Linked DNA regions of Homo sapiens. The protein of the gene in region 1 purifies or fractionates together with the protein of each later gene. This does not show direct contact. Each region holds a gene or a part of one and is shown in the gene's direction. Other genes may lie near its edges. The genes, in order: PSG3, MAST3, MEGF8, RHOBTB1 and INPP5A.

Region 1 (5,049 bases):
CTCACGGGGCTGGAAGGTGAAGGAGCTATAACATAACATATGTGTGACCTCGTGTGAAGTGTGCAGATCCATGTGGAATAAAACATGCAGCCTGGCCTGGGATTGCTGCCGTTCACATTTCCCTCCCTGTCCACCAGAGGGGGACAGAGTCCCTCCCAGCCTGGAGCCTTCCCAGGGGATGCCAACCGCCCTCAACGGAACCCACAGCCCAGCAGGGTCCACCCTCACCAGGGTCACTTCGGCCCAAGTCCTCAGCGCCCTCCATGCTCCCCACACGGACTCTGTCAGCTCCTCCCTGACCTGGGGGCCGCCAACCTAACACCACTCCCCCTGCAGGGAGCTCCTCCCCACACACCTGCTCCTTCCCTGGGCCCAGCTAAAGGCATCTCCCAGGGCAGTGCTGGTGCACGCGACACTACACTGGGTGCTTTCCCCTCGTGGCCTCCCTCCATCCTCATCAACTCGTTCTGTCACTGCTCCCTAAATGCCTGCCCCTGCTCCATCTGTCCTGTTCTCTGGGGCATCCCAGGCCAAGCCTAGCACTGACACAGAACAGTGGCTGCCTGAGGGCCCACAGCCTCCCCGGGAATCAGCCAGGCACCCTGTGTCCTGCCTGCTCCCTGCACCCCGGGGGGCTCAGAGCACGTGTGATGCTCACACACAGGCACCATCCGGGATGTGGCCACCTACCCCCAGCTGTCCCTTGGGAAGACAGACCTCTCCTGTGTGCTTGCTGGGAGAAGGGGGATGTTATTGCTCTTTGCTCCCAGAACACAACTCACCCCCACACGCCCACTCAGGTGTGAGCAACGTCCCTCCAGACAGGCTCTCTGGCCACTACCTGTTCCTCCTCTACACACAGCAGCTTGGCCAGGTCAAAAACCTCAGGACAGACCCCTGGGTATGTCGGCACATGGATGGCTGAGCCCATCATGGCCACAGAGTAAGTTGGGATGAATCTCTCCAGCTCTGAACCCCTGCTCTGTCCCAGGCTCCCCCTCCTGCATCTCAATGAGCCATGTCCCCCGGGGTTCCTGGGTAACTCCCCACTTCCTCCTGCACCACCACGGGGAAGGTGTGGTGACCACAGGACAATAAGCTGGGCAGAGAAGAGAGGACATCAAAGATGGTCAGGAAGAACATGAGAAACCATGAGCTCCAGCTCAGCCGCCAGACCCCAGGGAGCCATAGAGTGACCGAGAACTGTCCCTTTGACTATGGGACTCACAGCCCCCCACTGAGCAACCAGCACAGGCCTCTCCTCACAAGAGGCATGAGAGATTCATCCTGCACACCTCCAGGAAGGACAGTTTCCTCTGGGACACCCAGGTCCTGAATGTCCATCCTTGGAAGCTGCAGCCAAGCTAGACACGATTAGAAAAAGGAAGGTTCCCTCTCATCAGGCAACACACAGCTCACCCACAGCACAATGGGGTGTCACTGTGACAGGGACCTGGTTCAGCTCCAGCCTCCTGCACTGAAGGGGAGAGCCAGATGGGGATGAAAGAGGCCAAAGGGCATGAATGTGCACCCCGACCCAGAGCCATGGGGACAGCAGGAGGCTGAGGCCCAGGACTCTGCTTGCCCAACCTGCAGGGTATGTTTCTGACTGTGTGGGTCTGTGTGTGTCTCTTCTGTGTGTGTCTGTGTGTGTGTGTGTCTGCACAAAGTGTGTGATGAGGCTTGGTGAAAGAATCACTGCTGAAAAAGGCAGAGGCCTCCACAATTCCCAGGGACCTGAAACACAGACAAAAGGAAAAACAGGAGGGACAAGGAGGCAGGACTGAGAGAGGAGGGGACAGAGAGGTGTCCTGGGCCTGACCCCGCCCATGAACCTGAGAAGTGCTCCTGCCCCGGGAAGAGGCTCAGCGCAGAAGGAGGAAGGACAGCACAGCTGAGAGCCATGCTCAGGAAGTTTCTGGATCCTAGGCTCAGCTCCACAGAGGAGAACACGCAGGCAGCAGAGACCATGGGGCCCCTCTCAGCCCCTCCCTGCACACAGCGCATCACCTGGAAGGGGCTCCTGCTCACAGGTGAGGAGAGAACTTCCTGGGAGAGGACAGGAGGAGGAAGCAGAGTGACTGGATGGGGTCTCCTGGAGAGACTCCTGGGGTTCTAAAAAATAAAAGAAGCCAGCACTTAGGGAGGCTGAGGAGGGTGGATCACGAGATCAGGAGTTCAAGATCAGTCTGGCCAACACAGTGAAGCCCTGTCTCTACTAAAAATACAAAAATTTAACCAGATATTGTGGTGTGCTCCAGTAATCCTAGCTACCCGGGAGGCTGAGGCAGGAGAATCACGTGAACCCGGGAGGAAGAAATTGCAGTGAGCCGAGATAGTGCCACTGCACGCCAGCCTGGGCGACAGTACAAGACTCCGTCTCAAAAAAAAAAAAGAATGGAAAGAAAAAAGAAAAAAAGGAAAGAAGTCTCTGTTGGAGCCTGGATAGGGGAAAATACACCCAAGAGGGACAGGGGTCAAAACAGGAAAGTCACAGGAACCAGAATTGGTAAGAGGTAGGAAAATCTTAAGTGTTCTGTTTTCCTGATTAATCATCAGGGGCCACCACATTTTGAAAAATGATAATAATAACTATATCAGATGACACTTCAAATAAAAATATAAGCAGGGCATGAAACACTGTCCTCAGCAAAAAAACCTCAACAACTGGGGGAAGAAAAAACACCCAGGGCATGGAGGGCCCTGAGAACTCTCACATCTACAGGAGTCTGCAGCCTGTTCCAGGCACTGGGGTGCAAAGAAGATCACAAAAGTCCCTGTCCTCACGGAGCTCACGCTGTCATGGGGGGGAAGACAGACATGCAAAGAGTTCTAGAATGTGAGGTCAGGTGTTGAGAAGAACCCTGGAGGGAGCAGAGCAGGGAAAGGTCAGAAAGGGAAGACCCAGGGTCTCTGAAGGAGGCGTCAGGAAAGAAGTCTAAGGATGCCCTGATGTGAGCAGGACCTGAGGGCAGTGTGGAGGGGGCCGTGCGGACCCCTGGGGAAGAGGATTCCAAACAGAAAAATGCCAAGGTCAGAAGTGTTGAAGGAATGGGGGTCATGTTGCTGACCTTCACCTAGTAGGAGAGTAGGACACAAACACATATACACATGCCCCTTTTGTGTGTGTGTGTGTGTTTGTATGTGTGTGTGTGTGTCTCTTCAAAGCTGAGGATTGAAGAGACCTTCTCAGGACCCAGGGCCACATCTTTTCACCCCAATGCATAGGTCTCAATATTGACTGATGCTCTCTCCACCTCCTAGCATTACTTTTAAACTTCTGGAACTTGCCTACCACTGCCCAAGTCACGATTGAAGCCGAGCCAACCAAAGTTTCCAAGGGGAAGGACGTTCTTCTACTTGTCCACAATTTGCCCCAGAATCTTGCTGGCTACATCTGGTACAAAGGGCAAATGAAGGACCTCTACCATTACATTACATCATACGTAGTAGATGGTCAAATAATTATATATGGGCCTGCATACAGTGGACGAGAAACAGTATATTCCAATGCATCCCTGCTGATCCAGAATGTCACCCGGGAGGACGCAGGATCCTACACCTTACACATCGTAAAGCGAGGTGATGGGACTAGAGGAGAAACTGGACATTTCACCTTCACCTTATACCGTGAGTGACTCCACGTGATCACTGGGTGTTGGGGGATGGGGTCTTTACTTCACACACAAAGGATTGTCAGGCCTGGATTGTGCCTGTGTCCCTCTCTGCATTATGTCCCATGCTGGGGTTTGGGCATTTAGTGCAGGACACACACAGAAGAGACAAATTTCAACAGATCAGAATTCCTTTCCCGCATCCAGACCCTGCAGACACTCGCTGCAGAGGAAGGACAGTCTGATGGGGGGACTCAGCAGGAGGAGATCAGTCTCAGCCAAGCACCTCATGCTCTCTTCATAAATTTGACCCTGAGAAAGACCCTGGCAAACTGAGTAGGGCTTGGCCTCAGGGGCCCCATGAAATACTCTCAGAGAAGCTCAGCCCTAGAAGCCTCACCCCCAGAACCATGTCCCTAAATCCTTGCTCCAGATAAATCTGAGGAGCCTGTACTGGGGCTGGGTTGTCGCTTCTTGGGCAGGGCTTACTGGGACCAAGGATTTACCAGCTGTCAGAGGACTGTGTCTCCTGGAGCTGTTCACCAGCCAGGGCTCAGCCCTCAGAGCCTCATCTGGGCAAGGACAGAGCTTTCTTCACCTGACACTCAGAGTGGAGAGGACAGAAAGACAAGCTTTGTAGGCCATCAGACAACTGCCTTAGGAGGCTTAGGCCAGTCCATAGAAAGTCTAATGTCCCCAGAAGCAGAAACAGAGGAGAGAAGATATACCAGGTAGCAGCTTGTCCACAGGCATCTGACATAAAGGTGCTTTCTCATGGAAGCAAATTAATAATAAATGCTGTTTGTGTGAAACCTCCACTGTGCCAAGAATTAGGTCACGTGACTGTGAATCATTTAACATTTATTCACAGATAGCATGAAAAGCCACAGTCCATTTGCCATTTAGCTTATTTGTTTGAGAGAAAACTGAGGCACAGGAAGCCACAGTCACTGAACCAGAGTCACACAAACACAAAGGGGAGATCAGGGTCACATGAGGTGTGTCTGGAGCCAAAGGCCCACCCTCTCCTCCACCAGAAGTGAGGGCTTACTGGGTTCCAATCACCCTATAGTCATTTATTGGCTCAAATCCTCTCTTCTTAGGCATCCAAACCTCAGAGGAGTGAGAGCAAACGGTCAACTGATTAGTCTGTATTCCAGAACTAAATCACCTACCTCAACCGTCAGAGTCAGTGGAAAAAACATGTCCAGGCCTCCCCCTCAGATCTTAACCACCATCACTGAACCTGAAATCCTGTGTTTCCCAAAGTGTCCATGTCACTGTCACAAGAGGATCAAGGAGAGGACCTTGTTTTCTTTCCCCACTCACACCCTACACCACCATAGGCCCAGCGAGACAGACACACTCAGGAGCTCTTACATAACAAATGAAGAAATGGAATGAAGAAATGAATGATCCAAAACCTCTTTAGAGA
Region 2 (4,285 bases), about 25 Mb from region 1:
CCTCCTCCCTCATCTTGCAGAGATGGTGCCACTGAGTCACCTCGAAGAAGAACAGCCCCCAGCACCTGAGTCCCCAGAGGTGAGTAGCAGAGGCTGGGGGACCCCCGCTCATCTTGTTCTTTCCAGAGTGGACCAGGCACCCGCAGAAAGGGCTGGGTTTGCCGAGGTCTTGCATGTAGCTTAATTAGCATCGGTGACTTTGGAGGCAAGGTGACGGCACGTGGGACTGCCCTGCCTTGGAAGTCGGGTGGGGGCAGTGCTGGAGGGGCACTGGACAGGTGAGTTTTGCAGGACGTGTAAGAATTTCCCAGGAGGAGGGCACAGCTGTGAGCAAAAAAGTACAGAAAGTCAGAAGCTGAGTTGGAGAAGTTTGGACAGGGGAGGAGGTAGCATCGGGCACCAGGACCAGTGGTTTGGGCTTGGGGGCAGGAGAAGCCTTCCCAGCTCTGCAGCGGGGCAGGACCCTAAGCCCTTCCCATCCCCTAGAGCCGCGCCCTGGTCGGCCAGTCACGGAGGAAGCCATGCGAAAGCGACTTTGAGACCATCAAACTCATTAGCAACGGAGCCTATGGGTGAGTCCCTGAGTCCTGCATAGACCCATTTCACAGATGCCTGAGGGGATGGTTGAGGCCCAGGCAGCTCCTGCATCCCCCTCCTACCCCAGCAGGGCTCACACATTCATCCTTGAATGGGCAGAGAAGGCACCTGAGGACTGGAGGGGGAAGTGGAGACACGCCATAGCGAGGTTACAGCCTCATGTGTGCTCTGTCCACGAGCCAGGCCTTTACCTGCCCCAGGTGTAGGGCGTTCTAGGGGCTTGGGGGCTGATCAAGGAAATAGATGCCCACCCAGTGGGAGTAGCACGCAGTGAGCTTTATTTAGGTGCTGCTTTGAATGGCAGGCTTGCATACAAGGGAAGTCCCTCATAGCATAAGCCTTTTGGAGGCTGAGGTTCCAGGAGTCACCATCAAGAGGGAGAGGCCGGCAAGGGAACTCCCCGGGCAGAGGGGGATCAGAGAGGGGGCTTACATGTCTAGGTGATGTTGTTCAACAGCATGGGCACTCAATCTCTGGGTCAGAGACTCCCTGCAGGGTGGTAGCAGCTTAGGGTCTTGAAATCCACAAAGTTCATCTTATCCATGGCTCAGAGATGGTGCAGTTTCACGAGTCTGCAAAGCAGACAGGCTCTCAGTGGCTAAAATTTTGCTTACTTGGTCTGTGTGTAAAACAAACGGATGTGTAAAACTTTGAGTTTGGTGCTAGCGGTCTTTTAAAAGAGCTAGACCAGGTGCGGAGGCACTTTGGGAGGCCAAGGTAGGAGGATCGCTTGAGGCCAGGAGTTCGAGACCAGCCTGGGCAACATGGCAAAACTCCATCAATACTAAAAATAGAATAATTAACTGGGCGTAATGGCACATGCCTGTAATTCCAGCTACTTGGGAGGCTGAAGTTGGAGGATCACCTGAACCCAGGAGGCAGAGGTTGCAGTGAGCCGAGATCACCCCACTGCACTCCAGCCTGGGTGACACAGTGAGACCATCTCAAAAAAAAAAAAAAAGGAAAGAAAGAAAGAAAGAAATACACAAGCAGCCAGGTGCAGTGGCTCTCGCCTATAATCCCAGCACTTTGGGAGCCCGAAGTGGGAGGGTCACTTGAGGCCAGGAGTTTGAGACTAGCCTCCACAACATAGCGAGACCCCATCTCTACAAAAAATTTAAACATTAGCCAGGTTCTGTTGTGGGAGGATCATTTGAGCCGGGGGGGTGGTAAAGACTATAGTGAGCCGTGATCTCATGACTGTGCTCCAGCCTGGGCAACAGAGTGAGGCGCTATCTCAAAAAACATAAGATAAAATAAAAATAAAAGAAACATACAACCTAGAGGCCAATATACAAGGGCCATGTGCAGCCCATTTATATGGCCCCCAGCCATGGTGGCTTAAACCCAAAGGTGGCTGCTCTGGGAGGGGGAACAGGTAAGGAGAATGGGTGGCCCAGGTGGAGGGCACAGCACAGGCAAAGGCCAGGCAGGTTGGGATCTGGGCTCAAGTTGAGCTGTAGTGCCTGCTGGGGCCTCGATCTCCGGTCCCAGCAAGCCTGGCCCTCTGTCCCCAGGGCCGTCTACCTGGTGCGGCACCGTGACACACGGCAGCGCTTTGCCATCAAGAAGATCAACAAACAGAACTTGATCCTGCGTAACCAGATCCAGCAGGTCTTTGTGGAGCGTGACATTCTCACCTTTGCCGAGAACCCCTTTGTGGTCAGCATGTTCTGCTCCTTTGAGACCCGGCGCCACCTATGTATGGTCATGGAATACGTGGAAGGTACGCTCACTGGGGCTTGCATGCCTCCAGCGATGGGGAGCTCACCCCTCCACGCCTGGGAGAAAATTTTTAGACCAAGTTGAGGTCTGTTCTGTCCTCCATGAGGTCTCACCCTGCTTTGGGGAACCCTCAGGAACCCCAGTCTGGGGTAGGGAGCCCAGCCATGGGGGTTTAGGGCTGGAGGAGCCCAGACAGGAGTGTGTGAGGATGGGACCCTGGAGGCAAGAGGAGGGTGGCCATCCTAGGTGGGGGGAACTGATGGGCAGAGGCCTGGAGACCAGAAGTGAAGGCAGGGAGATGTATGGTTCAGGCAGGTAAAGTACTATTACCAAAGTACTGCCAGGCGAGAGAGCGAACATGCACTTAGGAGACACCAGCTGTATACAGCACTAATTGCTGCCCTGTCGGGGAGAATCAGAAGGCAGGGTCTCAGCTTGGCGCGCTGGCTCACGCCTGTAGTCCCAGCACTTTGGGAGGCCGAAGTGGGCTGATCGCTTGAGGTCAGGACTTCGAGACCAGCCTAAGCAACATGGCGAAACCCCCATTCACGCCTATAGTCCCAGCTACTCGGGAGGCTGAAGCAGGAGATTCGCTTGAACTCTAGAGGCGGAGCTTGCAGTGAGCCGAGACTGCGCCACTGCACTCTAGCCTGGGCAACAGAGCGGGCAACAGAGTGAGACTCTGTCTCAAAAAAATAAATAAAAATTTAAAAAATAGGCCAGGCGCGGTGGCCAACGCCTGTAATCTCAGCACTTTGGGAGGCCAAGGCTGGTGGATCACGAGGTCAAGAGATCGAGACCATCCTGACCAACATAGTGAAGCCCCATCTCTACTAAGAATACAAAAATTAGCTGGGTGTGGTGGTGTGCGCCTGTAATCCCAGCTACTCTGGAGGCTGGGGCAGGAGACTCGCTTGAACCCGGGAGGCGGAGGTTGCAGTGAGCCGAGATCGCGCCACTGCACTCCAGCCTGGCGACAGAGCGAGACTCTCTCTCAAAAAGAAGAAAAAATTAAAAAATTAAAAATAAATGAAGGTAGGGTCCGCCCCTTCCCTCTCCCCCGACCCTCCCCGCTGAGATAGAACAAACTGGGGACCTTTTGCAGGAGGTAAAGCGAGGAGGATGCATAGGCATTGGGCATAACCTAAGGGGCGGGCGGGGGGCGGGGGTGCCCCGGGCCTCATGACTACATCCGCCCTTCTCCCAGGCGGCGACTGCGCCACGCTCCTGAAGAACATGGGCCCGCTGCCCGTGGACATGGCCCGCCTGTACTTCGCCGAGACGGTGTTGGCGCTGGAGTACCTGCATAACTATGGCATCGTGCACCGTGACCTCAAACCAGACAAGTGAGCTGAGCTAGCATGAGCGGGGCCTCGCGGAGGGCGGGGCCAGAGAGGATCAGGGGCGGGGCCAAAGAGGATCAGGGCAGAGCCTCTGAGGTGCATCCCGGGACCCTTCAGGAGCCCCATCTGTCTGAGCTCTGTTGGTACCTCCTGACAGGAAGGCAGGGAATGAGCGCATGGTGAACATCTTGTGTGTACAGAGGAGAGGAGAGCAGACACTTAATAGGCGTCTGCTGTATGCAGGGGAAGGCCGGTGCACTTATGGAGGTGCTGCCAATCCAGGGGAGAGGATGTGCACTTAGGATGCACACACTGTATACAGGAGAAGGGGCTGCGCACCCAGAGCTGCTGCTGCACAAGGGGAGAGAACATGCACTTATAAGACACCAACTACACACACAGAACAGGATTATGCAATTTGCGAGACCTTACATGTAAAGACAGTGACCGTGCATGTCTTGAGCACCTGCTGTATATTAGTGCAGGAAAGCAAGGAAGAGAACGTGTTTACTGAGAGCCTTAGGATGTTTATTTTATTCTGGTAGGTGGTAAGCACCTACTGCATGCCAGACCCTCTGTGGGCAACTGGGAGACACAGGGCCACCTGCTTTGAAACCCCT
Region 3 (4,285 bases), 380 kb from region 1:
TATTTTTATTAGCAACAGGGTCTCACTGTGTTGCCTAGGCTGGAGTGCAGTGATGCTATCTTGGCTCACTGTAGCCTCTGCCTCCAAGGCTCAAGCAAGCAATCCTCCCTCCTCAGCCTCCCAAGAAGCTGGGACTACAGGCATGCCACCACGCCTGGATAATTTTTTTTTTTTTTTTTTTTTTGTAGAGACAGGGTTTTGCTATGTTGCCCACGCTGGTCTTGAACTCCTGGGCCCAAGCAGTCCACCTGCCTCAGCCTCCCAAAGTGCTGGGATTTAATTCCCTTTTTCTCTTAATCTGTCTTTTCAGATTCAGTAGACAGAGACTACTTCATGTCTGTGTCTCTCAGTTATTTTTTGAGGATTTAAAAAAATTGAGGTGAAAGTCACATAACATAAAATTAACCATCTTAAAAATACATTGGCTGCAGCCTGGGTGACAGAGCAAGACTCTTTCTCAAAAAAAAAAAAAAAAAGCATTGGCATTTAGTGCCTTCAGAGAGTTGTCCAGCCGCCACATCTATCTGGTTCGAAAACATTTGTCTCTCTTCTTATTTCCCTCTTTGTGTTCCTTTGTTGTCTGCTTGTGTCTCTCTCCCTCTCTTTTTTTTTGCTTGCTGTCTATCCTCATGTGTTTCCTCTCTGCTTCTGCTGTTTTTTTTTTTTTTTTTGGAGACATGGTCTTGTTCTGTTGCCCAGGCTGGAGTGCAGTGGTGCAATCTCAGCTCACTGCAACCTCAACCTCCTGGGCTCAAGTGATCCTCCTAATTTAGCTTCCCAAGTAGCTGGGGCCACAGGTGCGCACCACCATGCCCAGCTAATTTTTTATTGTTTGTAGAGACGGGGTCTTTCTACGTTGCCCAGGCTGGTCTTAAACTCCTGGGCTCAAGCAGTCTTCCTGCCTCAGCCTCCCAAAGTGTTGGGATCACAGGTGTGAGCCACCGCCCTTGGCCTTGTTTCTGCTGTCCTTTGACCCTGTGTTTCTCCTCTTTCCCTGCATCCTTCTCTGACTGGCATCATGGTGTGGGTCTCTTCCTGGAGTCTCCTGCTCTCTATCTGTCTGAATACACCATCTTTCCTCAGGCTCGGCCTCTGTGGGGCCCCCAATGGAGGAGTCTGTGGCCCATGCTGTGGCAGCAGTCGGGAGCCGCCTGTATATCTCTGGGGGTTTCGGGGGAGTGGCCCTGGGCCGCCTGCTGGCACTGACCCTGCCCCCTGACCCCTGCCGCCTGCTGTCCTCACCTGAAGCTTGTAACCAGTCTGGGGCCTGCACCTGGTGCCATGGGGCCTGCTTGTCCGGGGATCAGGCCCACAGGTAACCATGGCGACCATGACAGGCAGTGGGGAGTGGAGCCCTCTAATGGGGGTCCTGTGCTAGGCCACACCAGGATGGAGGCCTCAGGAGTATACCGTCTGGTTCAGGAAAGGGGTGAATCACCGCAGGCAGGGTGGCCGGGGGAGCTCTGAGTGGGGATCCCTGCCTGGGACTGGGGTCTCATGCAAGAATGCTTGCTGGAGGAGCTGGGTCTGAACTGGGCCTTAAAAGAACGGTAGAGTTGAGACCATCAGTGATTCAGAAGTGAGGCTGAGACCGGAAGCTGGAGGGGGTCAGCTCAGAAAGGGCTTCCCATGCCTGGCAGAGGCACTGGCTCTGTCCAGCTCCACAGATCCTTCAGCTGCGGTTCCAGGAATGCAGACATCCTGGACACTGAAAGTGTTTTCTTAGGCTTAGCACAGACTCACTTCGCTGCCCAGTCACCCTCACTGATATGAGGCTATTAGTTGGCCTTATTTGCCCGAAGGGTGTGTTGTCAGTTACTACAGGAATGTTAATGGTTTGATTTCGGAGTGCTCCTTACCCCAGACCCCACTGGAGGTATTGTGTAACAGTGGGTACACCCACTGCTTTTCTAAAATCCAGAACAGTCTGAAACGTGTGTACCTCTTGGGATTTGGGGTAAGGGATTGTGGACCCCCCCTGTGCAGGACAGGGAGCCATGGAAGGCCTGAGCAGGACAGGGCAGGGACGGGCCTGGGCAGTGAGATCCCTGGCGCTGTTGTGAGGGGTAGAGTGACGAGAGCCTGCAGGTGGGGACCAGGTTGGGCAAGGGGCTGCAGGGGTGGGGAGGAGGGGACGGTCAGGGAGAAATCCAGGAGGCAGAAGGCTTCGGTGGCTGCATGGGCAGGAGGACCTGGGGTGTGGTCCAGCGTCTCCAGCCTGGGTGACAGGTGGATGTGGGACCATCTATTACCAAATGGTGGTGGGGACAGCCAGGCTCAGGAGGCCTGTGCTATGTCCAGCTTGGGATGCAGGGTTGGGGGCCTGCAGGACAGTGTCTGGGAGGCAGAAGGAGGGGGTCTGGATGGGTGTGAGTGAGCCAGGCCTCATGTCCTTTAGGCTGGGCTGCGGGGGCTCCCCCTGCTCCCCAATGCCTCGCTCCCCGGAGGAATGTCGACGTCTCCGGACCTGCAGTGAGTGCCTGGCCCGCCATCCTCGGACCCTGCAACCTGGAGATGGAGAGGTGAGTGGTGGGGAAGGCAGGGATGAGAAGCAGCAGGTGTAGGGCAGGGAGGTCCTGGTCTCCACTCTGGTCAGCTGTCCCACCCACCCCAGGGTCTCAGGAACCACCGAGTTCTCAGCTGGCTCAGGAGGGGTGCTGAGGGTCCCATCTAGCCTGTCTTCCCTCACCAGGCGTCCACCCCCCGCTGTAAGTGGTGTACCAACTGCCCCGAAGGTGCTTGCATTGGACGCAATGGGTCCTGCACCTCTGAGAATGACTGTCGGATCAACCAGCGAGAGGTCTTCTGGGCAGGGAACTGCTCCGAGGCTGCGTGCGGGGCTGCTGACTGCGAGCAGTGCACGCGGGAGGGCAAGTGCATGTGGACGCGGCAGTTCAAGAGGACAGGTGAGCAGTGGGCCTAGTTCCTGAGAGGGGAGTCTTGGGGCCTGGACTCCTGGGTCTGAGGGAGGAGGGGCTGGGGGCCTGGTCTCCTGGGTCTGAGGGAGGAGGGGCTGGGGGCCTGGACTCCTGGGTCTGAGGGAGAAGGGGCTGGGCCCCTGATCTCCTGGGTCTGAGGGAGGAGGGACTGGGGCCTGGACTCCTGGGTCTGAGGGAGGAGAGGCTGGGGCCTGGACTCCTGGGTCTGAGGGAGGAGGGGCTGGGGGCCTGGACTCCTGGGTCTGAGGGAGGAGGGGCTGGGCACCTGATCTCTTGGGTCTGAGGGAGGAGGGGCTGGGGCTGGATTCCTGGGTTAAGGGAGGAGGGGCTGGGCCTGAGCTCCTGGGTCTGAGGGAGGAGGGGCTGGGCTTGCGATCTCCTGGGTCTGAGGTTCTAATCCCCGTGCCCCACCCCCAGGGGAGACCCGCCGCATCCTCTCCGTGCAGCCCACCTATGACTGGACGTGCTTCAGCCACTCTCTGCTGAATGTGTCCCCCATGCCGGTGGAATCATCACCCCCACTGCCCTGCCCCACCCCTTGTCACCTCCTACCCAACTGTACCTCCTGCCTGGACTCTAAGGGAGCAGATGGGGGCTGGCAGCACTGTGTTTGGAGCAGCAGCCTGCAGCAGGTACTGCACCTGGCCAGGACCGTGCCAGGCAAGGGCCCGGGCAGGTCTCCCTCCTCTCTGCGCTGGCAGGGACCTTTCTTCCACCATCTCCTCCACCCTCCTCCTTCCATCTCCCTGGCTCTAGCTGCAGTCGTGCTTCCTTCTCGTGCCACCATCTCTTTCCTCCCTCGTTGCCTCATGAGGGTCCCTGTTGTGTCCTCCAGCCATGCTTCTGTGTGTGCCACTTTCCCAACCCCTGGCCTCTGCCTCTCCAACTCTTGTCCATGGTATCATGGTCTCCTCATCCTTTCCATGACTTTAAAAAAATTTTAATTTAATTTTTTGTTTTTAATTTTGTCGATATAATTCATAGGTTCACATCCACGACTCTTAATGCTTCTTCCTTCAACCTCCCAAACCTTTTCTGCTTCCCTCCTCTCTCTCTTTCTCTCTCTACTTATGGAACTTTTGGTTATAAGAAACAGACACTCCCTCGAGCTGGTTTTGTTATAAGGAAGTGTGGGTATTTGATGGACTCTGAGAGCAGGAAGTGTTTCTGCTCTGTTGCTCTCAGGCCACATGACCCGTAATCTCAGCTGTTCTCCACACTTCTCCATTGTCGGGTTTCTGTCGGTCTGATAGTCAACACACATGGCCTCAGATTGCAGCCTTGACTCCCAGTCTAGATGCCTTCTAATTCCAGAGACCACGTTCATCTCTGTGTTTGTCGGTTAG
Region 4 (3,500 bases), on another chromosome or scaffold:
GGGGGAGGTTTTGTCTCTCCTCCTTCTTTGAATTCTTGGACATGTATTTGGCCAAGAAGAGACAGTTTCTAGAATTCCATGAAGCCCCGTAGTGCCTCCCCTGTTAATGAACATCTCATTGCAGCTGTTCTGGAGTTTTCTAAAGTCAGAAGTTGCTAATATTGAGATTGTAATAACATAATCCCAATACAGACTTGCCCTCTTCTTCCAGAGAAGGTCCAAGATTCAGCTTTAGCTTCACCATGGAGTAACTTCCCCAAAGCACAAGCTAAACTCTGCCTCACTTTCCTCATCCACAGGAAATGGGATGACAGTTTGCATCCTACCAACCTTACAGATTATTCTGAGAATGAAGTGGGAGAGAATGTTCAAGAGCGAGCACTGAAGAGTGTAAGCCCTCTTACAATGCCAGGCACATCTGCAGAATTATCTAGTCCCTGGCACAGGCTGATTAACAATGAATTTACACTCTGAGGAAACTAAGAATAAATTCCTCAGTCTTTTCTTCGGCCTGTTGGGTTTGGCTTCCTGTGCTCCCTCTTTCTGTTAAGACAATGACTTACTAAGTCTTAGGTCAGTCCATTTAAATCAATATTTCTCAATCAAAGGAAAGGAGGTGGTTTCAGGGAGAGGAGGTGGCATCCAGCAGGTGCTGCTCAGGCCCTTCCTACTGTGGCCAGAGGAGATTGCTCTGGTGCAAAAGGGGGAAAAGGCGGAATTGAACTTTACAGCGACCTATTCATTATGACTTAGCATTCAACAAGTATTTGTTATTTTTCTCCCCAAATACCAGGCACCGCCCTAGGCAAAGGCCGTGTACATATAAATGGTAGATCCTCTGCCCCAGGGCAATCATAGGCAAGTAAGGGAAACAGACACAAACACAAATTATTAAAATCCAATTAGGGATTACAGTGAAACTGAGAATAGACATCTAATGCAGTCGAATCAGCAAGCCCCCATCAAAACTGGTTGTTCACACTTGGAATTTGGGGTCTTTTGAAACAGTTCCAGGGGATGGTTTATAACCTGTACTCTCTCCAGCAAGTATTCCTCCTAGAGAAAAATGTAATGATCCAGAATTTCATATTGGGACCATTCACTTGAGGGAATGATTTGCAGTTGTGTCTGTTTGTTGCACTGTGTTCCCACCTTACCCCCATACACACCCACTACAAGGAAATAATATGATTATTGCTAAGCCCTGACAAGCCTTGGCAGGAAGAGCTTAGGATGGATTCTCCCATGCTCATTCATTAGACCCTAACCTAGTGATGTGCTGGTAAGTGTTTAACAGTCAGCTTGAGGGCAAGTGGGACCCCAATCTGTTGCGTTTGCCAATTTCTATGATATAAATACTCCCATCATGGCTGATGATAACATATGAAGTCACTAAACTCAAAGTAGGGAAGAAATGCACACAATTGGTTCTCTCAAGCTGGAACAAACCCACCTGGCAGAACACTGCCCCAGCCTTGTTTTCAGAGAGAAATCTAACAGCAAGAGAAGTTGGAAGCACCAGCTAAAACTGTCTCTGATGTTTGGGTTGTGATTTTCAGTGAGTCTCTTGAGTGGGTTTCTGAGGTCTCTGGCTTTTCTATTGGCCTCACAGTGGAGATATGGGGCCACAGAGGAAGCATGCTGTAGGTTCTAGGGATCCACCTGACCAAAGAAACATCAAGAGCGACAGACAACAGAAGGGAAGTCAGAGAAGGGCACAGACAGAAAGTGAGGGATCGCAGCAGGCCCACCAGGTCTGGGGAGGGAATGGGGGAGTAGATAGTTGATTTTTGAGGATCTAGTCTTTTTTAATCATAGCCACCTCAGCTGCCACCTTCCTGAGCATTGCTTAGAATGGAAGGGTGGAGTATCTGGATCTCTCCACCCTGCCCATACCGCCTGCTCTTCTTATGTAACCAAAGGAGAGGTATAGGACAGTCACACATTCTGCAGTCTCCTCTTTCGGATCTTGGCCCCAGCAAGCTGAGCTCTGACATGCGACACGAAGTATTCCATTGCGGAGGCTTCCTTAAACAGAGATGACATCGCTGCTTTCTGCTGTGGGCTGGTGCCTTCCAGAGGCCACGGTTGTTTAGCACTAGAGGGCCAGGTGGCAGGGGAGGGCGGGAGGGCGAGGCATACTTTAAGCTCGTGATTCGATATTAATTATTTTTGTGCACCTATGACAGCAGGGAAAGGAGGGGTGTGCCCAGCACTACATTGGCTGGCATTGGAGCCATGGCCAAAGTCAAAACATTGAGGTCAAAACAAGAGGTTTACCGAATTAGTTATATAAGCCCTTCATTTCTTTTCACCCTTAAAATGGCTTCCCCAATTTCTTTGTAGCCCCTCTTTAGAAAATAGTCTTACCCTCCTTTTGCTCACTTTTCTGCAGTTTCACAATGCCCACCAGTTGGCCGCCTGGTGTTTGCACCACATCTGCACCAACTACAACAGTGTATGCTCCAAGTTCCGTAAGGAAATCAAATCAAAATCTGCAGGTGAGACTGTGTGAGGCCCCCATTCATCCAGCTCTCCTCACCTCTCATGGAAGCTTTTATCTTCTATGTCCCTGGAAAGGAACATGGTCAGCAGGCAGCTCATGGATGATTCCTCGAGACTGGCTGGTGGTCACATATTAATGTGAGATGACATAAGGAATTGAAGGCTGGGAATTGTCTTTGGAGAACTTGATGATGAGGGGAGTTGGGTGGGCTAGAGTCCAGGGTGCCCTGTTGCAGAGAGTGCAGAGGTGGTGGCCTTCCCCTTGTTTAGGGAGACAAGCTTAGGAGCAGGCTTAGACTCTGAAATCAGGTGGTCCTGGGTTCAGGTTCTCTGTGCCCAGCTGCATGACTACAGGTAAGAGATTCTTCCTCTCAGAACGTTAGTGTCACCTTTTGCAAATGGCCCTAATCACAGTCTCTGCCGCATCACGTTTTTGAGAGGATATTTGAGAAGCTTTAAGCTCAAGGCCTAGCACATAAAAGGCATCAATGAACCGCAGGTCTTATGGTCTGCATCTTTCCTTCACCAGACAACCAGGAATACTTCGAGCGGCACCGCTGGCCCCCTGTGTGGTACCTGAAGGAAGAAGATCACTACCAGCGTGTGAAAAGGGAACGAGAGAAGGAAGATATTGCACTAAATAAGCATCGCTCAAGACGAAAGTGGTGCTTCTGGAATTCATCTCCAGCAGTGGCCTGAAGAGGAAGAGAAAAAAAACAAAAAACAGAAACCAATCGGTAATCTGATCCACCACTTTTCAAAGCACTACTATAAAATTCGTCTTGTTAGAGATACGACATAGTTCAGGTTTCGGGCACTGATCTTCCTCCACTTTTGTGCATTTATCTTTGTTAGGATCAAAGCACAAGCTCACCATCAATGAGCCTGGACAAAAAGGGAAGCTGACTCTCACTGCATTCCTTAAACTGATATGTATATTTTTTTTGTTAGGAGGCTTAATAAACTTTAGTCTGTTATTTTGTTTCTTTTTATAC
Region 5 (4,285 bases), on another chromosome or scaffold:
AATTTGGGGAAAATTTGTCCTTGTCCATTATTTCTTTAAATACTATTTTTCTTTTCCTTCCCTTCTCTTTTGTTCTTAGGCTCCAGTTACCTGATGTTAGATTGCCTGGTTCTGCCCCACAGGGCCCTAAAGCTCTTCTGATTGTTTTCAGCTCATTTTCCCTGTGTTTCGGTTTGGATCGCCTCTGTTGCTGTATTTTTAAGTGGCTGGGCTCTTTTCTGTTGCAGATTTTGATCTTCTCTTAGGTCCATGCAGTCAGTTCGTTTTATTTCTGACATTGTGTTTGTCCACTCCTTCCAGAAGCCTCACGTGTGCTTTCCCTGTCCTCGCTTTTCCTTCCGTCTGTGCGTTCCTTTCGCTGTCTGGTCACAGTTGCAATGACTGTTCCCAGTTGCTTTCAGCTCACTCCGTCATTTTTGCCTCTTCCGGGTCTGTTTCTGTTGACGGCTTCTTCGTAGGATGACGGGACACATTCACGTGGTGTTGCTGCTTCTCATATCAAGTTATTTTCCGTAGGATGGCAGACATTGCGAATGTTACGTTGTTTAGTGTTTGAGCCCTGTTTTCTTCCTTTAAAGCGTGTTGAAGGTTGTGTTTACCAACAGTTAAGCCACATGGGGATCAGTGTGGGTCTGTCAAGGCATTCTTTGCCTTGCCCTTCTCTACTGGTGCAGTTTTATTTTCTTCAATGTGGACCCCCCTTCTTCCTGACACATGGACTGGCTGGATCACAGGGTGCTGGTCTCCTCTCTCCCCACTGGCTTGAATAAGCATGCGTGGGTAGGGGGATGATGGACTGTCTCTGTGGAGGGGCCAGGCAGACGGGGCCTCGTCCTCCGTTCATGGGCTCCAGGGGTGTGCGGTGGCCTCCTGTGCAGCCATGCTTTGCGGAGATGGTGGTGAGCTTGTCTCCTTAAGGCCTTCCTGATGATAAAATGTGACCAGTAGGATGAACGGTCGGGGACAATGGCGTGTCCAGAGGTCCTTTCCCTCCTGTGTGGTTGCAAGGCCGTGGCAACTCAACCACCATTCTCGCTGCCACTTCTGGGAGGAGCAGATGGGGACAGAACTACCTGGGCCCTGGGGTGCATGTGCCCCAACCTGTGTGTGCTGGTGGCTACTGGGGGTCCAATTTCTCTCTTAAGACCAAGCGTGAGCTATCAGGAGAGCCCCCAGAGCTTGGAGTTGCGCTTCCCTGGCATGAGACCTTGGGTGAGTTCTCAATGTCTCCATCCCTGGGATGCCTCAGACCCCGGCATCTCACAGGCTGCGTGGAGACCAGAGCCTGTGGGAGCTTGAGCTCTGCACATGCTGAGAGCTGAACGTGAGGCCAGCTCCTGCGGTGGCTGCCGCCATTCCCTGCCCTCTGCCTGTCACGGGTGGATGGTCTCACGGTGATGTACCTATGTGCTGGAGCCCCTCTTATACCTTGTGGTCATCTCATGAGGTGCAAGGCGTCTGTGTGGCTTTTCCTCAGGAACCTACTTTCTTCCTTCCAGAGAACTATTGTCGAGTGATGCGATGAAAGAATATAACAGGGCTCGAGTCTACCTGGATGAAAACTACAAATCCCAGGAGCACTTCACGGTGAGTCCCTCCCGCTGCCTGGTGCAGGGGTCAGACAGGCTGGCCTTGGCAGAAGCCAGCCCTTCTCCTGTGTAAATGGAGAGAGGTCGGGGTGCTCCCTGCCTGAAGCCTCACTCACGCTGCCCTGCCTGGCACTCCCGCAGCCTGCTTGGTGGTCTGCTCGTGGTCTGAGCCCATGGCTGGCCTGGCAGGGAAGGTGGCCCAGCACGCACAGGGTCTTGGGGCTCCAGACCAAGCCCAAGAGGGAATTGGGGAGTGACAGGTGGGGAGAGGCCCAGGGCCTCAGCGTGCATGAAAATAAGAGGGAGTCCGGGGCTCCAGGCGTGTAGATGAGAGGTTGGACAGCAGCCGGTATTGCTTCAAGAGCCACCGTCGCCAGCCCTGCTCCCATGCTGGGTCCGTCCCTTCCTGATCCCTGAGTGTGCAGGGCTGGGGCGGTGTCCTGCCTCGGAGAGAGGCTGTTCCTCAGGGTGAGCACAGGGGGAGTGGGACAGAGCCTTCCACAGGGCTGGGAAAGACCTGTCCCTCCTCTGCGGTCCTCTGTCAGGTGGACACATGAGAGGGTGGCCCTGGTGGACGTGGCAGCCACAGAGATACAGGCACCAGGTGTCTGGGAAGGGGCAGGAAGCTCCTCAGAGGAGGGGACACTCTGCAGGTCGTGAATAACTTGCTGTTGGTTCAGAGACCCACGTCTTAAATCCCGTCTTTATGCCCTGGGTCCCCCGGCCTGGATCCATCTCCCCCGTCTCTGGGGAGGCCCTGGGTCCCCCGGCCTGGGTCCATCTCCCCCGTCTCTGGGGAGGCCCTGGGTCCCCCGGCCTGGATCCATCTCCCCCGTCTCTGGGGAGGCCCTGGGTCCCCCGGCCTGGGTCCATCTCCCCCGTCTCTGGGGAGGCCCTGGGTCCCCCGGCCTGGGTCCATCTCCCCCGTCTCTGGGGAGGCCCTGGGTCCCCCGGCTTGGGTCCATCTCCCCCATCTCTGGGGAGGCCCTGGGTCCCCCGGCCTGGTTCCATCTCCCCCGTCTCTGGAGAGGCCCTGCATCCTTCTCCCCCATCTCTGGCCTTCTGTCCCCAGCATCAGCGCCCACTAGCCGTCATTGCGCCGTCACGTGACAGGCCCTTGTTAATCTGCCCTCTCCCAGGTGGGCCCCCGTAGGCTGCAGTGCTGAGGGTCTCGCTCTCCAGTGCCCCCCTGCCCTGCAGGTGGGACTCTCATTGCTGTTTGGGTTCAAGGGCCATCTCACTTGTTTGGGCATCCAGTGCCAGTTGATCAATGTCCTTGTCCCTGAGATGGTCACACAGCTGTCATGCGTGGTCCCCACCAGTAGTGGAGTCTGTACAATCCCGGGAATCCCCCGTTCGGTCTCCGACCCTCGCCCTGTCAAGCAGCTGCCCACACACAAGCGGCCTCTCCTCACGCTCTGTGGGGCACACGGGGACCACGGGGCCCCCACTCACACCAGAGCCAAGGCCCTCACCCCTGTGCTCAGGATGTAGCTCCTCCTGTCAGCCTTCCTCCCTCTCCCCCTTGGTCCCTCCTCCCTCTCCCCCTTGGTCCCTCCTCCCTACCAGCTTCTTTCTCTCAGCTCTGCCATCCTTTCCATAAAATGGCAGCTTCCTTGACCCTCTCACTCTCCTCTGCCATGACCCAACGTAATGTGTTTCCCAAGTAGGGGCTTATTCAGATGAAAAAGAAAAACACCACTGGGGGAGCAGCAAATTAGACATTGCAGAAGAAAAGAGAAGGTGACTGAACTTGAAGACAGCCACAAAATTAAAGTGAAACAGAGAGAAGGACTGAAAAGTGGATAGAAATCACTGTGAAATACCAGGTGTCCTAACACGTGTGGCTGCAGCCCCAGGAGGAGCGGGGAAAGGAGGCAGACAGGGTGATGCTTACAGATGTCATGGCTCAGATTTCTTCATCAGTCCATGAAACTTACAGAAAGATCCAAATACTGCAACAAGCTTCAAGCCGAATAAACATACCAACGCAGGCCAAGGTCCGATTGCTGAAAGCAAGTTACATGAAGGCCCTTCCTTGCCACCCATCATCCTCGGAAGAGTGGGGCTCTGCTCCCCGTCTCTGCGTGCTGCCCTGCCATGGGAGCCTCATCTGTGCCAGTCGCCAGCTACCTCTTCCTCATGGGGACCATCGCTCAGCTCTTTCCAGCTTCCTTTAGATATAAAGACACAGGTATTTTAAAAGTGAAGGGACGGAGGAGGATGTACCTTGTAAAACAGTCGTTAGAAGAAAGTAGGAGTGGCTGTCTGCATGTCAGGGTGCCCTCAGAACGAGCGTGTTGTCGGGGCTGAGAGCGGTCATTTCACGATGATAAGGGGTCAGCTTTTTGGGAGGACATAGCGGTCGTGAACGTGCGCCCCTAATATCAGAGCTCACTTAGACGCGAAACCGACAGGGCTGGGTGGAGACGGGAGGCTCTGCACCGCAGGAGGACCCCACAGTCCCCTCCTGCTGGCCGATGTGCAGGTGGGCGGAGGGGCAGTGCCCGCCACCCGCACCCTTGGCATCTGAGGCTCTCCAGCCAGAGCAGTGGTGGACGCAGCCACCGACAGAAGGCACCCGCGTGCTGGGCCCTGGCCAGAGCAGGCCTCTCCGTCTGTCCGAGCCTGGCTGGGATACCTGAGAGCGAGGCACACATGGGCTGGCGGAGGGGCAGCCGTCATGCTGTAGTTCT

The links.
Region 2: the proteins of PSG3 (region 1) and MAST3 purify together in Homo sapiens (affinity purification with mass spectrometry; one large-scale study listed by BioGRID and IntAct). This does not show direct contact.
Region 3: the proteins of PSG3 (region 1) and MEGF8 purify together in Homo sapiens (affinity purification with mass spectrometry; 3 studies listed by BioGRID and IntAct, with this or other methods). This does not show direct contact.
Region 4: the proteins of PSG3 (region 1) and RHOBTB1 purify together in Homo sapiens (co-immunoprecipitation; one large-scale study listed by IntAct). This does not show direct contact.
Region 5: the proteins of PSG3 (region 1) and INPP5A purify together in Homo sapiens (affinity purification with mass spectrometry; one large-scale study listed by BioGRID and IntAct). This does not show direct contact.

Annotation. Positions count from the first base shown.
Region 1 is NC_000019.10:42,737,305-42,742,353, reverse strand, and holds the start of PSG3 (pregnancy-specific beta-1-glycoprotein 3 precursor), read left to right. Parts: upstream 1-1,872; 5' UTR 1,873-1,903; coding exon of another isoform or gene 1,904-1,969; coding exon 1,970-2,033; intron 2,034-3,264; coding exon 3,265-3,630; intron 3,631-5,049.
Region 2 is NC_000019.10:18,128,380-18,132,664, forward strand, and holds part of MAST3 (microtubule-associated serine/threonine-protein kinase 3), read left to right. Parts: intron 1-20; coding exon 21-79; intron 80-486; coding exon 487-572; intron 573-2,114; coding exon 2,115-2,323; intron 2,324-3,529; coding exon 3,530-3,668; intron 3,669-4,285.
Region 3 is NC_000019.10:42,359,692-42,363,976, forward strand, and holds part of MEGF8 (multiple epidermal growth factor-like domains protein 8 isoform 1 precursor), read left to right. Parts: intron 1-1,083; coding exon 1,084-1,315; intron 1,316-2,398; coding exon 2,399-2,522; intron 2,523-2,692; coding exon 2,693-2,906; intron 2,907-3,356; coding exon 3,357-3,571; intron 3,572-4,285. UniProt on the Homo sapiens protein: Acts as a negative regulator of hedgehog signaling.
Region 4 is NC_000010.11:60,871,186-60,874,685, reverse strand, and holds part of RHOBTB1 (rho-related BTB domain-containing protein 1), read left to right. Parts: intron 1-2,395; coding exon 2,396-2,501; intron 2,502-3,034; coding exon 3,035-3,204; 3' UTR 3,205-3,500.
Region 5 is NC_000010.11:132,648,919-132,653,203, forward strand, and holds part of INPP5A (inositol polyphosphate-5-phosphatase A), read left to right. Parts: intron 1-1,499; coding exon 1,500-1,587; intron 1,588-4,285. UniProt on the Homo sapiens protein: Phosphatase that specifically hydrolyzes the 5-phosphate of inositol 1,4,5-trisphosphate to inositol 1,4-bisphosphate, and inositol 1,3,4,5-tetrasphosphate to inositol 1,3,4-trisphosphate. Plays a crucial role in the survival of cerebellar Purkinje cells.